Linked DNA regions of Homo sapiens: region 2 is linked to region 1. Evidence: fine-mapped expression QTL. Tissue or cell type: prefrontal cortex. Region 1 holds a variant in brackets; the other region holds the start of a gene. All regions are shown on one strand. Distances are between the middles of the regions.

Region 1 (8,000 bases):
TATTAACCTTAAATGTAAATGGGCTAAATGCTCCAATTAAACAACACAGATTGGCAAATTGGATAAAGAGTCAAGACCCATCAGTGTGCTATATTCAGGAGACCCATCTCATGTGCAGAGACACACATAGGCTCAAAATAAAGGGATGGAGGAAGATCTACCAAGCAAATGGAAAACAAAAAAAGGCAGGGGTTGCAATCCTAGTCTCTGATAAAACAGACTTTAAACCAATGAAGATCAAAAGAGACAAGGCCATCACATAACGGTAAAGGGATCAATTCAACAAGAAGAGCTAACTACCCTAAATATATATGCACCCAATACAGGAGCACCCAGATTCATAAAGCAAGTCCTTAGAGACCTACAAAGAGACTTAGACTCCCACACAATAATAATGGCAGACTTTAACACCCCACTGTCAACATTAGACAGATCGATGAGACACAAAGTTCACAAGGATATCTAGGAATTGAACTCAGCTCTGCACTAAGCGGACTTAATAGACATCTACAGAACTCTCTACCCAAAATCAACAGAATATACATTCTTCTCAGCACATCACACTTATTCCAAAATTGACCACATAGTTGGAAGTAAAGTACTCCTCAGCAAATGTAAAAGAACAGAAATTATAAGAAACTGTCTCTCAGACCACAGTGCAATCAAACTAGAACTCAGGATTAAGAAACTCACTCAAAACCGCTCAACTACATGGAAACTGAACAACCTGCTCCTGAATGACTACTGGGTACATAATGAAATGAAGGCAGAAATAAAGATGTTCTTTGAAACCAATGAGAACAAAGACACAACATACCAGAATCTCTGGGACACATTTAAAGCAGTGGGTAGAGGGAAATTTATAGCACTAAATGCCCACAAAAGAAAGCAGGAAAGATCTAAAATTGACACCCTAACATACAATTAAAAGAACTAGAGAAGCAAGAGCAAACACATTCAAAAGCTAGCAGAAGGCAAGAAATAACCAAGATCAGAGCAGAACTGAAGGAGATAGAGACACAAAAAACCCTTCAAAAAAATCAATGAATCCAGGAGCTGGTTTTTTGAAAAGATCAGCAAAATTGATAGACCGCTAGCAAGACTAATGAAGAAAAAAGAGAAGAATCAAATAGACGCAATAAAAAATGATAAAGGGGATATCACCACCGATCCCACAGAAATACAAACTACCATCAGAGAATACTATAAACACCTCTACACAAATAAACTGAAAATCTAGAAGAAATGGATAAATTCCTGGACACATACACCCTCCCAAGACTAAACCAGGAAGAAGTTGAATCCCTGAATAGGAAAATAACAGGCTCTGAAATTGAGGCAATACTTAATAGCCTACCAACAAAAAAAAGTCCAGGACCAGATGGATTCACAGTTGAATTCTACCAGAAGTACAAGGAGGAGCTGGTACCATTCCTTCTGAAACTATTCCTATCAATAGAAAAAGAGGGAATCCTCCCTAACTCATTTTATGAAGCCAGCATCATCCTGATACCAAAGCTTGGCAGAGACACAACAAAAAAAGAGAATTTTAGACCAATATCCCTGATGAACACCGATGCAAAAATCCTCAATAAAATACTTGCATACCAAATCCAGCAGCACATCAAAAAGCTTATCCACCATGATCAAGTGGGCTTCATCCCTGGGATGCAAGGCTGGTTCAACATATGAAAATCAATAAACGTAATCTACCATATAAACGGAACAAAGACAAAAACCACACGATTATCTCAATAGATGCAGAAAAGGCCTTTGACAAAATTCAACAGCCCTCCATGCTAAAAACTCTCAATAAATTAGGTATTGATGGGATGTATCTCAAAATAGTAAGAGCTATTTATGACAAACCCACAGCCAATATCATACTGAATGGGCAAAAACTGGAAGCATTCCCTTTGAAAACTGGCACAAGACAGGGATGCCCTCTCTCACCACTCCTATTCAACATACTGTTGGAAGTCCTCGCCAGGGCAATCAGGCAGGAGAAAGAAATAAAGGGTATTCAATTAGGAAAAGTGGAAGTCAAATTGTCCCTGTTTGCAGATGACATGATTGTATATTTAGAAAACCTCATCGTCTCAGCCCAAAATCTCCTTAAGCTGATAAGCAACTTCAGCAAAGTCTTAGGATACAAAATCAATGTGCAAAAATCACAAGGATCCTTATACACCAGTAACAGACAGCCAAATCATGCGTGAACTCCCATTCACAATTGCTTCAAAGAGAATAAATACCTAGGGATCCAACTTACAAGGGATGTGAAGGATCTCTTCAAGGAGAACTACAAACCACTGCTCAATGAAATAAAAGAGGACACAAACAAATGGAAGAACATTCCATGCTCATGGATAGGAAGAATCAATATCGTGAAAATGGCCATACTGCCCAAGATAATTATAGATTCAATGCCATCCCTATCAAGCTACCAATGACTTTCTTCACAGAATTGGAAAAAACTACTTTAAAGTTCATGTGGGACCAAAAAAGAGCCCACATTGCCAAGACAATCCTAAGCCAAAAGAACAAAGCTGGAGGCATCATGCTATCTGACTTCAAACTATACTACAAGCCTACAGTAACCAAAACAGCATGGTACTGGTACCAAAACAGAGATATAGACCAATGGAACAGAACAAAGCCCTCAGAAATAATACCACACATCTATAACCATCTGATCTTTGACAAACCTGACAAAAACAATAAATGGGGAAAGGATTCCCTATTTAATAAATGGTGCTGGGAAAACTGGCTAGCCATAAGTAGAAAGCTGAAACTGGATCCCTTCCTTACACCTTATACAAAAATTAATTCAAGATGGATTGGAGACTTAAATGTTAGACCTAAAACCATAAAAACCCTAGAAGAAAACCTAGGCAATACCATTCAGGACATAGGCATGGCCAAGGACTTCATGTCTAAAACACCAAAAGCAATGGCAACAAAAGCCAAAATTGACAAATGGGATCTAATTAAACTAAAGAGCTTCTGCACAGCAAAAGAAACTACCATCAGAGTGAACAGGCAACCTACAGAATGGGAGAAAAATTTTACAATCTACTCATCTGACAAAGGGCTAATATCTAGAATCTACAAATAACTCAAACAAACTTACAAGAAAAAAACAAACAACCCCATCAAAAAGTGGGCGAAAGATATGAACAGACACTTCTCAAAAGAAGACATTTATGCAGACAATAGACACATGAAAAAATGCTCATCATCACTGGCCATCAGAGAAATGCAAATCAAAACCACAATGAGATACCATCTCACACCAATTAGAATGGCGATCATTAAAAAGTCAGGAAACAACAGGTGCTGGAGAGGATGTGGAGAAATAGGAACACTTTTACACTGTTGGTGGGACTGTAAACTAGTTCAACCATTGTGGAAGACAGTGTGGTGATTCCTCAAGGATCTAGAACTAGAAATACCATTTGACCCAGCCATCCCATTACTGGGTATATACCCAAAGGATTATAAATCATGCTGCTATAAAGACACATGCACACGTATGTTTATTGTGTCACTATTCACAATAGCAAAGACTTGGAACCAACCCAAATGTCCATCAATGATAGACTGGATTAAGAAAATGTGGCGCATATACACCATGGAATACTATACAGCCATAGAAAAGGGTGAGTTCATGTCCTTTGTAGGGACATGGATGAAGCTGGAAACCATCATTCTCAGCAAACTACTGCAAGGACAAAAAACCAAACACCGCATGTTCTCACTCATAGGTGGGAATTGAACAATGAGAACACTTGGAAACAGGAAGGGGAACATCACACACCAGGGTCTGTCGTGGGGTGGAGGGGGGGGAGGGATAGCATTAGGAGATATACCTAATGTAAATGACGAGTTAATGAGTGCAGCA[C/T]ACCAACATGGCCCATGTATACATATGTAACAAACCTGCACGTTGTGCACATGTACCCTAGAAATTAAAGTATATATATATAAAAAAAAAAACTACCAGTAATTTAGCTTAGTGAGGAAGGCATGTGGAAAGCCAAGATGGGCTGAAAGCTAGGCCTCTTGCACCAAACAGCCAAGTTGTGAACGCAAAGGAAAATTCTTGAAGGGAATTAAAAGTGCTATGCCAGTGAACACAGGAATAAGAAAGTGACACAGCATCAATGCGGATATGGAGAAAGCTTTAGTGCTCCAGATAGAAGATCAAACCAGCCAAAATATTCCTTTAAACCAGTCTTAGGGCAAGTCCCTAATTCTCTTCAATTCTATGCAGACTGAGAAAAGTAAGGAAGCTGCAGAAGAAATGTTTGAAACTGGCAAAGAATTGCTCATGAGGTTTAAAAAGATATCATCTCCACAACATAAAAGTGTAAGGTGAGGCAGCAAGTGCTGATGGAGAAGCTGCAGCAAGTTATCCAAAAGATCTAGCTAAGATCACTGATGAGGATGGCTACACTAAACAATATATTTTCAATGCAGACTAAACAGCCATCTATTGGAAGGAGATGCCATTTAGAACCTTTCATAGCTAGAGATATCAATGTCCGGCTTCCAAATAGGGTGACTCTCTTGTTAGGGGCTGATGCAGCTGGTGACTTTAAGTTGAAGCCAATGCTCACTTACCATTCTGAAAATCTCAGGGCCTTTAAGAATTATGCAAAATCTACTCTGCCTGTGCTCTAGAAATGGAACAACAAAGCCTGGATGACAGAACATCTGTTTTACAGCATGATTTACTGAATATATTAAGCCCACTGTTGAGACCTACTAATCAGAAAGATTGCTTTCAAAATATCACTGCTCACTGACAACATACCTAGTCACCCCAAAACTCTCATGGATATATACAAGGAGATAAATGTTGTTTTCATGCCTGCTAACACACTGTCCATTCTGCAGCCCATGGATCAAGGAGTAATTTCTACTTTCAAGTCTAATTATTTAAGAAATAAATTGCGTAAGACTATAGCTGTCACAGACAGTGATTCCTTTGGTGGATCTGTGCAAAATAAATTGAAAACTTTCTGGAAAAGCTTTATCATTCTAGATGCCATTAAGAACATTTATAGCCAGGTATGGTGTCTCATGCCTGTAATCCCAACTCTTTTGGAGGTGGAGGTGGGAGGGTTACTTGAGGCCTAGAGTTCAAGACCAGCTTGGACAACAGAGTGAGACCCAATCGCTACAAAAAAAAAATACAAAAAAAAAAGTTGGGCATGGTGGCACATGCCTGTAGTCCCAACAACTCGGGAGGCTGAGGCGGGAGGACTGCTTGAACCCAGAAGTTTGAAGCTGCAGTGAGCTATGACTGCAGCACTGCACTCCAGCCTGGGTGACAAAGCAAAACTGTATCTCACAAAACAACAACAACAAAAACCCATTCATTCGAGGAGGTCAAAATATCATTTATTTTTTTATTCCACATTTGCCAGAACTACAAAATGTCAATATTAACGGGAGTTTAGAAGAAGTTGGTTCCAACCTTGACCGACAGGTTCAAGACTTCAGTGGAGTACGTCACTGCAGATAGGGTGGAAATAGCAAGAGAACCAGAATTAGAAATAGAGACGGAAGATATGGATGTGCAAATAAATGGTTTCTTGAAATGGAATCGCTCCTGGTGATGATGCTGTGAACACTGTTGAAACGATAACAAAAAGCAGATTACTAAATTTAGTTGATAAAGTAGCAGCAGGGTTTTAGAGGATTGACTCTAATTTTGAAAGAAGTTCTACTGTGGGTAAATTGCTATCAAACAGCTACAGAAAAATCTTTCATGAATGGAAAGTCAATCGATGAGTCAGACTTTACTTCCGTCTTATTTTAAGAACTTGGCCAGGCACAGTGGCTCACGCCTGTAATCCCAGCAGTTTGGGAGGCCGAGACAGGCGGATCATTTGAGGTCAGGAATTTGAGACCAGCCTGGCCAACATGGTGAAACCCCATCTCTACTAAAAATACAAAAAAATTAGCCGGGTATGGTGACGCATGCCTGTAGTCCCAGCTACTCGGGAGGCTGAGGCAGGAGTATCGCTTGAACCGGGAGGCAGAGGTTGCGGTGAGCCGAGATGGCACCAACCTGGGCAACAGAGCAAGACTCCATCTCAAAAAAACAAAACAAAACAAAACAAAACAAAAAGAACTTGCCACAGCCATCCTAACCTTCAGGAAGCATCAGCAGGCATCAATGTTAAGGCAAGACTCTCACCAGCAAAAAGATTACCACTCACTGAAGGCTCAGATGATCATTAGCATTTTTGAACAATAAAGCATTTTTAAAATTAAGGCATGCACATTGGGCTTTTTTTTTAAGCTATAATGCTATTGCACACTTAAAAGACTACGGTATAGTGTAAACATAACTTTTATATGCACCCCCCCAAAAAATGTGTGTGATTCACTTTGTGATAGTCCCTTTATTGCAGTGGCTCAGAACCGAACCCACAGTATCACCAGCATATGCCTGTATTTCTCAAAACTGTCAGGGTCATCAAAAACGAGGAAAGTGTGAGAAACTGTCACAGCCAAGAAGAGCCTAAGGAGACACAATGACCAAATACAGTGTGGTATCCTGCATGAGAGCCTTAGCTTTTACCTATTGTCCTTAGAACAGCAAAAGCACATTAGGTAAAAACTAAGAAAATCTGAATACAGTATGGACATTAGCATTAACTGAAATACACGTACCATATTAATGTAAGATGTTAATAACAGGGGAAATTGGATATGGGATATGTGGGAATTCTCTACTATCTTCACAATATTCTGTAAATCTAAGGCTACGCTAAAACTAAAAGTTTATTTTAAAAAGAACGGGGGTCAGGACATAGATTATTTTGCATCACCAAAATCATCTAATTCTGGCCGGGCACGGTGGTTCACACCTACAATCCCAGCACTTTGGGAGGCTGAGGCGGGTGGGTCATTTGAGGTCAGGAATTTGAGACCAGCCTGGCCAACATGGTGAAACCCTATCTCTACTAAAAATACAAAATTTAGCCGGGCATGGTAGCAGGCGCCTGTAATCCCAGCTACTTAGGAGGCTGAGACAAGAGAATAGCTCAAACCTGGGAGGCAGAGGTTGCAGTAAACCGAGATGGCACCACTGCACTCCAGCCTGGGCAACAGAGTGAAACTCCATCTCAAAAAAAAAAAAAAGGAAAAATCATCTAATATCTGAGATTTGCTTCAATTAACCAAGAAGGGCAGGGCTATAGGTTAAAAAAAAAATTACTAATAGATTTTTTAAAATCTATTACTTTCTTCATGTCTGAAAATTTCCATGATATGCTTTTTAAAAAAGAAAGTATCTGGGCTAGGTGCAGTGGCTCATGCCTGTAATCCCAGTACTTTGAGAGGCCCAGCAGGCACACAGCTTGAGCCCAGGAATTCAAGACTGGCCTGGGCAACATCGCAAAACCCTGTCGCTACAAAGAACACCAAAAAAAAAAAAAAAAAAAAAAATAGCTGGGCATGCTGGCACACACCTGTGGTCCCAGCTACTTGGGAGGCTGAGGTGGAAGGATCACTTGAGCCTGGGGAGGTCAAGGCTGCAGTGAGCCAAGTGATCATGTACTGCACTCCAGCCTGAGTAGGTGAAGCAAGAACCTGTCTCAAAAAAAAAAAAAGTATCTGACCCAACAAACTACCGTTCCTTTAACCCTGACACCTGACACCCAGGTGCAGGGTTCTGTATGCATATTGGTTTCTAGAGGTTATAATGTGTCCACATGATTTAGTTGAGTCTTGTCCATGGAGTCAAAGGACACAGCCTCCAGAGTCCATTCTCATGGGTTTGGTGTGTGTCTCTGTATATGTTAACTATTTTCTTTTTACTTCTGCTTCTTCATTATTTAATACAAATTTCATTGTAATGTTACAATGTAGTCTCTAGGTAAGGGAATGCTCACATGGACATGTGTGTAGAAGGGTGTGTAGACATGCAGAGTAGTCTGAGGATGGATTTTGCCAGTGGTTAAGTTGTAGTCTCTTCACTCCAA
Region 2 (8,000 bases), 34 kb after region 1:
GACTCTACTCCTCTACCTCTTGTCTTTTCTTTTATCTCTGTCTTGTGTCTTTATTTCTACACTCTCTCGTCTCCGCACACGGGGAAAAAACCCACCGACCCTGTGGGGCTGGACCCTACACCCTATTCCTTTAAAAGCCACAGTAAAGTTAAAACCTATAACTGATAATTGAAGGCCTTCTCTGTAACTCTGTAACACTCCAATACCACCTTGTTGTCAGTGTAAACAAGGGCGTAGCCCAAAAGCACTGAGGCCACTGACAACCCATAGCCTTCCTATCAAAAATCCTTAACCCAGCAGGTTTCCTAACAGGGGATCTAAATCTTAACTAACTACCATACAAAGGTCCGACCAGATCTAGGAGGAACTCCCTTCAGGACAGGACCATAGATGGTTCCTCCTGGGTGATTAAGGAAAAAAGACACAAGGGGTATTCAGTAAATGATAAGGGAACTGTAGAAGCAGAGTTAGGAAAACTGCCTAATAATTGGTTTGCTCAAATGTGCGAGCTGTTTGCACTCAGCCAAACCTTAAAGTACTTACAGAATCAGGAAGGAGCCATCTATATCAATTCTAAGTTAATATGGACTGAACGAGGTCTTATTAATAGCAAAGAATAATTGAAATCCCAAACTTACAAGGTTTTCAACAAAAGTAAAGTTTGCTAAAAGTTAACAGTGTAAACATATATTATTCTAACTTCTAATCTTGTGGAAATCAGACCCTATCAGTACCCCTCAAAGCTCAAGTCCGTCAGTGCAGAGCCATACAACTAATACCCCTACCTATAGGGTTAGAAATGGCCACTGCTACAGGAACTGGAATAGCCAGTTTACCTACTTCATTATCCTACTACCACACTCTCAAAGGATTTCTCAAGAGAGTTTGCAAGAAATAACAAAATCTATCCAGTAAGGATAGTAACTACAATTCCAAATAGACTCTTTGGCAGCAATGACTCTCCAAAACCACCGAGGCCTAGACCTCCTCACTGCTGAGAAAGGAGGACTCTGCACCTTCTTAGGGGAAGAGTGTTGTTTTTACACTAACCAGTCAGGGATAGTATGAGATGCCACCCAACATTTATAGGAAAAGGCTTCTGAAATCAGACGCCTTTCAAACTCTTACACCAACCTCTGGAGTTGGACAACATGGCTTCTCCCCTTTCTAGGTCCTGTGGCAGCCATCTTGCTATTACTTGCCTTCGGGCCCTGTATTTTTAACCTCCTTTTCAAATTTGTTTCCTCTAGAATTGAGACCATCAAGCTACAGATGGTCTTACAAATGGAACTCCAAATGAGCTCAACTAAACTTCTACCAGGACCCCTGGACCAACCTGCTGGCCCTTTCACTGGCCTAAAGAGTTCCCCTCTGGAGGACACTACAATTGCAGGGCCCCTTCTTCACCCCTATCCAGCAGGAAGTAGCTACAGCAGTCATTGGCCAAATTCCCAACAGCAGTTGGGGTGTCCTGTTTAGAGGGGGGGGATTGAGAGGTGAAGCTGGCTGTGCTTCTGGGTCGGGTGGGGACTTGGAGAACTACTCTGTCTAAAGGATTGTAAATGCACCAATCAGGGCTCTGTGTCTAGCTAAAGGTTTGTAAACACACCAATCAGTGCTCTGTGTCTAGCTAATCGGGTAGGGGACTTGGAGAACTTTTCAGTCTAGCTAAAGGATTGTAAATGCACCAATCAGTGCTCTGTGACTAGCTAACTGGGTAGCAGACTTGGAGAACTTTTCTGTCTAGCTAAAGGATTGTAAATGCACCAATCAGCGCTCTGTGTCTAGCTAAAGGTTTGTAAACGCACCAATCAGCACTCTGTAAAAACCGACCAATTAGCACTCTGTAAAACAGACCAATCAGCACTCTGTAAAACAGAGCAATCAGCACTCTAAAATGGACTAATCAGCTCTCTGTAAAATGGACCAATCAGCAGGATGTGGGTGGGGCCAAATAAGGGAATAAAAGCAGGCCACTGGAGCCAGCAGCGGCAACCTGCTCGGGTCCCCTTCCATGCTGTGGAAGCTTTGCTCTTTCATTCTTTGCAATAAATCTTGCTGCTGCTCACTCTTTGGGTCTGCACTAACTTTATGAGCTGTAACACTGACTGTGAAGGTCTGTGGCTTCACTCCTGAAGTCAGTGAGACCACAAACCTACTGCGAGGAACAAACAACTCTCGACATGCCACCTTTAAGACCTGTAACACTCACTGCGAAGGTCTGCAGGTTGACTCCTGAAGTCAGTGAGCTCATGAACCCACTGGGAGGAAAAAACAACTCCAGACGTGCCACCTTTAAGAGCTGTAACACTCACTGCAAAGGTCTGCGGCTTCATCCCTGAAGTCAGCAAGACCACGAACCCACCAGAAGGAAGAAACTCTGGACACATCTGAACATCAGAAGGAACAAACTCTCGACATACCATCTTTAAGAACTGTAACACTCACCGCGACAGTCCGTGGCTTCATTCTTGAAGTCAGCGAGACCAAGAATCCACTGGAAGGAACCAATTCCGGACACATTTACGCAGCAGCCACGTCAGACTGGGACACTTCCTGCTTACAGAGGACTATAAAACCCCTTCCTCACTTGGGGCTGATGCTATTATAAAACCCATTCCTCACTTGGGGCTGATGCCATTTAGGCATAAACCCGTCTGCACCCAGGCGCTTATTAAAACAGCATGTTGCTCCACACCGCCTCATGTCGTGGGGGTTGTTGGTGCGTCATCGGGGTTCAAACCAATACAAGAGCCTTGCAGGTTGTTTGTAGCACTAACAAAGGATAAATGCTTGAGAAGATGGATACCCTGCTTATCCTGATGTGATTATGCATTCTATGCCATATCAAATATCTCATGTACCTATAAATACATATGCCTACTATGTACCCACAAAAATTAAAAATAAATTTTTTTGAGATGGAGTCTCGCTCTGTCACCCAGGATGGAGTGCAGTGGCGTGATCTCGGCTCACTGCAAGCTCTGCCTCCTCGATTCACGCCATTCTCCTGCCTCAGCCTCCCAAGTAGCTGGGATTACAGGCGCCTGCCACCACGCCCGGCTTATTTTTTGTATTTTTAGTAGAGACGGGATTTCACCGTGTTAGCCAGGATGGTCTTGATCTCCTGACCTCGTGATCCGCTCGCCTTGGCCTTCCAAAGTGCTGGGATTACAGGCGTGAGCCACCGCACCCGGCTAATAAAAAAATTTTTAAAGAGATTTATTCTGAGCGAAATGAGTGTCTATGGCCCATGACACTGCCCTCAAGAGATCCTGAGAGCATGTACCCAAGGTGGTGGGGGCACAGCCTAGTTTTATACATTGTAGGGGAACATGAGTCTTCAATCAAATACAGGTATAGACTAGTTCGGGCAGGAAAGGTGGGACAACTCAAAGTGGCGGCTTCCAGGTCATGGGTAAGATGAGAGACAAACGGCTACATTCTTTTGAGCCTCTGCTCTGCCTTTTACTGAACACACAATTTACGCCATGGGGCAGGCAGAGGAATAGCCACTTGTGCCTTAGTCTGGCTCAGTGAATCTGCATTTTTACATAAATACAGGGCAGAGGAAGCCGTCAGACATGCATCTGTCTCAGGTGAGCAGAAGGATGACTTGAGTTCTGTCCCTGTTCCTCACCTGCGAAGACAAGCTGTCAATTTACACTGCCAGGGTGCAATTCCACACAACTGTTTCAGGGTAAAGATGTGGAGGTCCACAGCGAATTTCCTCCTGGCCAAAGGGTGAGGGAGCTGTGTGGCTTTTTATCTTTGCAGCTGTCTTAGGAACAAAACTTAGGGGCAGGTTTGCCTGACGCAGCTCCCAGCTTGACTTTGGCTTAGTGATTTGGGGTCCCGAGATTAAATTTCCTTCCACACTATTCTCCCTAGTTTTGTGTATGTGTGAACTATTCTATTTCTGGGCACTTTTAATTTTAAAAAGTGGACAATACTGATCTGGACTTCATTTTAGGAAATGCTGGGGGAGGCTGCAGGATCAGGTGTGCCTCCGTCCTAAATACGCGAAAACGAGGCCAGCGCCCTGGTCCTCGCCCCCACGCCCGCGAACAAGCCTCAGGAGACGCTGGGGGAGGCGCGGGGGCAGCGGCGTCTCCCGGAGACACGAGCCTCGCCCAGGGGGCGTGCGGGAGCCCAGGACCCGCGGGGAGCCAGGCGCTGCCCCGCCGCCGCCCCCAGCCTGCCCAGGCCCCGCGCGCCGCCGCCGCCGCAGCTCTCGAGGTGCTGAGGGACGCCGGGAGGCCGCCGCCTAGAGGGTACTCACCGCCTTGCCCGCAGCCCAGGATCGCCGCCTTCTGGGACTCGGGCTGCGGCATCTTCTCTCCCGCCACAGCCCCAGTCCGACCCGCAGGAGCGGCGCGGGCTGAACTGCCCCGGGGCCCAGCAGCCAGGCGTCGCGCAGGCGCTGGGCGCAGTGGCGGCCGCGCCTCCTCAGGCCCAGGGCCCTCGCCCAGTCCCCGAGCCGCTGCCTCCGCCCAGCGCCGCGCGTCCGCCGGCGCCGCGTGACAGGCGGCCCCGCCCCCGCGCCGCGGTGACGAAACCTCTCGCTGCCCTGACGTCACCGGCCGCCGCGCGCTGAGTCCTCCCTAGCGTTCGCGCAGAGGCGCCGCGCGTGGCCTGGCTCCTGTTGTCTGTCACCCGCGGTCTCAAAAGACCCCATTAATGACAAATGCCCTGCCTGTGGCCCCGGCTACTCCGGAGGCTGAGGCGGGAGCAGCGCTTGAGCCCGGGAGCTCTGCGCTGTATGCGCTGTGCCCATTGCGCGGCGACACGCATCTGTGTTCCGCATCGGTGTGGTGACCTCCCGGGAGCAGGGACCACCAGGTTCCCCAAGGAGTGGGGAACTGGCCCAGCTCGGAAACCGGGCAGGGCAAAACTCCTGTGCTGATCGGTAGCGGGATCGCGCCTGTGAATAGCCACTGCCCTCCAGCCTGGGCAATACAGCGAGACCCCATAAGTGAAAAAAAAAAAAAAAGACAAATGCCCTTAAACATATTAAAAGAAGTTAAACGCCACTTGTGATAGAAGAAAATGTAGATTAAGGTGTAAAGAGAGAAGTGGTGAAAAAAACACTCATACCTTGGTGATAATAGTGCAATGTATACAAATACCATAAAAGGGGAATTGGCAATTTTTAAGAAAAATGGTGTGGGCATTCATCTTTGGCCAATAATGCCAAGTTATATTGAAGAATATCTTAATACTAATCTTCTTTGCATTTCTGAAATAAATCCCACTTGGTTAAGAATATTTTTGAACTTTTTTAAAGAACTCATTGCTTCACAATTAAAGTCTGATGGGGTACACGCGTAGCAATGGAGGAACTTCTACAGCTACTATAAATTAAAGAGCACCACCTGAACCAAAGTAGTGGCCTTCTTGAGCTGAACTGAGCTAACCACATTCCCCAGCCCCTCTTCCACAGATACCCCATGGGGTTGTCAGGGTGTAGGGGATGCCATGTTGTACCACCCAGGTTTCCCCTTAAGGACTGAGGACTCATTTCTCCAGTTGTTGGGTGTGTAGGCCGCTGATGGCCCCCAGCTGAGTCTTGTGGCCACTTCCCTCAGCCAAAGAGAACTGCTGCTGGGTGCCAAGTTGAATGCTTTTGACTCCTTCTACCATGCTTGTGTCTTGATTGGAGATTGACAGATATTTCAGGTACTGGTTTCTCTTGCAAGGGCAGTGCAGACAGCACACAGGTATCTTTGCCCAGTTTCCTTCAATGGTTGCAGCTCATGTAAAATATACATAGTATAATATCAAATAAGCGTCATTGGGGATCAATCCTGCTGGGATCCCCCTCAGAAACTATTCACAGCAGTGGCAGGCAAACTAGGGCAAAGTCTACTAGGTATATTTAAAAGTGTATTACAAGTTTATTTAAATACATAAATATGTTTCCAGAAAGTAATCCTTCCAACTACCTAAACTAGTAATGAAAAATGTTAAATATCACCTTAAATATGTATAAGGGGATACTAAGTTCTTGTATTTAAACCTTATTATTTTAGTATATACTCAAGCAAAAGAGTTTGAAGACCAGACCTTTAGGGCCTCACTACTCAAATGGTGGTCCAGCAACAAGCGACACCAACGTCACCTGGAGTGTGTTAGAAATGGGGAGTCTTGTGCTCCACCTACTTAATTAAAATCTGCATTTTTACCAAGATTTCCAGGTGATTTATACACAAATTAACATTTGAAATCATGCTCTAGGATTAATCAGGGCATGTAAATTTCCATTGTTTCATCTTCTCCTGACCCTTGATAGTATCAGATATTTAAATATTTGCCAACCTGATGAGTATGAGATGCATCTGTTTATTACTTTAAATACTATTCTACCTGATTAATGTGCAATAATTACTTAACCATTATTCTCGTAATTGAGGATTTGGGTTAGCTCCAATTTTTCACTATCATACAGAATGACACTAAAATGCTCTTTTCAGCGTATCATTCTGGTTAAACACAATCTTTGAGGCCACGCTGATTAGGATCATGTAAGGGCCGTGTTATTGTTTGTCCTTGGATACAGTTGCCAGATGAAATACAGGATGGCCTGAAATTTGAATTCCAGATTAAGAATAATTTTGTGGTTTAAGTATATCCTGTGCAATATGTGAGAGGCTTGTCTTCATCTGTGCTGCCATAATAAAATACCTGAGACTAGGTAGTTTAAAAACAAATTTGTTTTCCCACTCTCCTGGAGGCTGGGAAGTACAAGATCCAGCAGCCGTATCTGGTAGGCTGCTGGTGAGGGCTTTGTGCTACATCATAACGTGGCAGAGAATCGGAAGAGGAAGCGCGCACTGGCTAAAGGGGCAATGTTACTTATTAACAACCCGCTCTCAAGGTACCTAATCCAGTCTCAAGAGACTGGGAACTCTCAGTGACTGCGTTAATCTTTTCATGGGGGGCTGGTCCCTCATGGCTCAAATGCCTCTTAAAGGTCCTACTCTGTCTCAACACTGTTACCCTGGGGTCCAAGCCTCAACATGAATTTTGGTGGGGATAAAAGGTATTCAAACTGTAGTGCTGTTGCTTTGTCAGTTGTTTCAACATGAATTATGGAAGACACATTCAGAATGTAGCCATATGTACAGTAAAATGTTATTGTCTATTTGAAATTCAAGTTTAACCAGGCATCCTGTATTTTTATTAGCCAAATAGGGCAACGTTAACCTGGGCACATTCTAACCATCGTTTTCTCATCTATGAAATGAGGATAGCAGTAGAACTCATAAAGTTGTTGTATGAATGAAAGGAGATAATCCATGCAGACTACTTATAACAGAGTATGAAACGTAGTAAAAGCTCAGCAAATGTCAGCTCTTCTTAGTTGTTGTTTCATACAGGTGTGTCTTGGGATAAATTCCTAGAAGGATGTTTTAGTTACAGAACTCCTGGGCTTAATTTCAGACTTGTTTGAGCATTCCATCATACCAAAAACTGTTTTGTAAGAAACCCTAAGCAGGTTACCAGATACTTTTCAACTAGCTTCAAAATACAAATCAGATTTTTAAATTTCCACACAAAAACAAAAAATTGCCATCTATAGGCAAGTATCAATTTCCCTTTAATCACACCAAATATTTGGATATTGATTCTGATTTCTTTTCTATTTTAGGGTCAACTGAAGCAATATTTAAGAAGATACTGTCCAAGGGACATGCTGAACAATTTCTAGGACTTATCTGTGTTATCTAGTACCTAAACTAAATTACATTACAAAACTAAGACTTAATATTAGGCCCACGGCTTTTAACAAAAGAGAACACTCCTGTCTTTTGCTTTTGGGAAAGCTGATATTTACAGCATCCATTCTTTATGCTTACCAGAAAAAAAATATACTTTTTAATGTTACATATATATCATTTATATATTACATATAATAATTATATATAACATATATATATTCTCAAATTTCAACTAGAAAAAAACTGTTACTTTAAGAAGATACTCCATATTTATACTAC

Which allele goes with the higher level. Alleles are on the strand shown, and positions count from the first base shown. SD is a standard deviation of normalised expression in the study named.
In carriers of allele T in region 1, the expression in prefrontal cortex of the gene that starts at base 4,493 in region 2 tends to be higher than with C alone (large effect, 1.2 SD a copy in GTEx).

The links. PIP is the estimated chance that this variant, and not a neighbour inherited with it, causes the effect.
Region 2: it holds the start of GALNT11, and the variant in region 1 is fine-mapped to the expression of GALNT11 in prefrontal cortex (GTEx, PIP above 0.99). The same link has a PIP of 0.9 or more in hippocampus and visceral fat.

What each region holds. Positions count from the first base shown.
Region 1 is chr7:152,056,469-152,064,468 of GRCh38, reverse strand. The region is part of intron 1 of GALNT11 (polypeptide N-acetylgalactosaminyltransferase 11); the gene reads right to left. Among named protein-coding and RNA genes, the nearest start is that of GALNT11, 35 kb to the right of the region's middle. The variant C/T (reference allele first, on the strand shown) is at 3,905.
Region 2 is chr7:152,022,167-152,030,166 of GRCh38, reverse strand. It overlaps GALNT11 (polypeptide N-acetylgalactosaminyltransferase 11), which reads right to left and starts at 4,493. Exons shown (of 12, transcript NM_022087.4): 1 at 4,283-4,493. RefSeq lists silencers at 3,959-4,658, 5,509-5,803.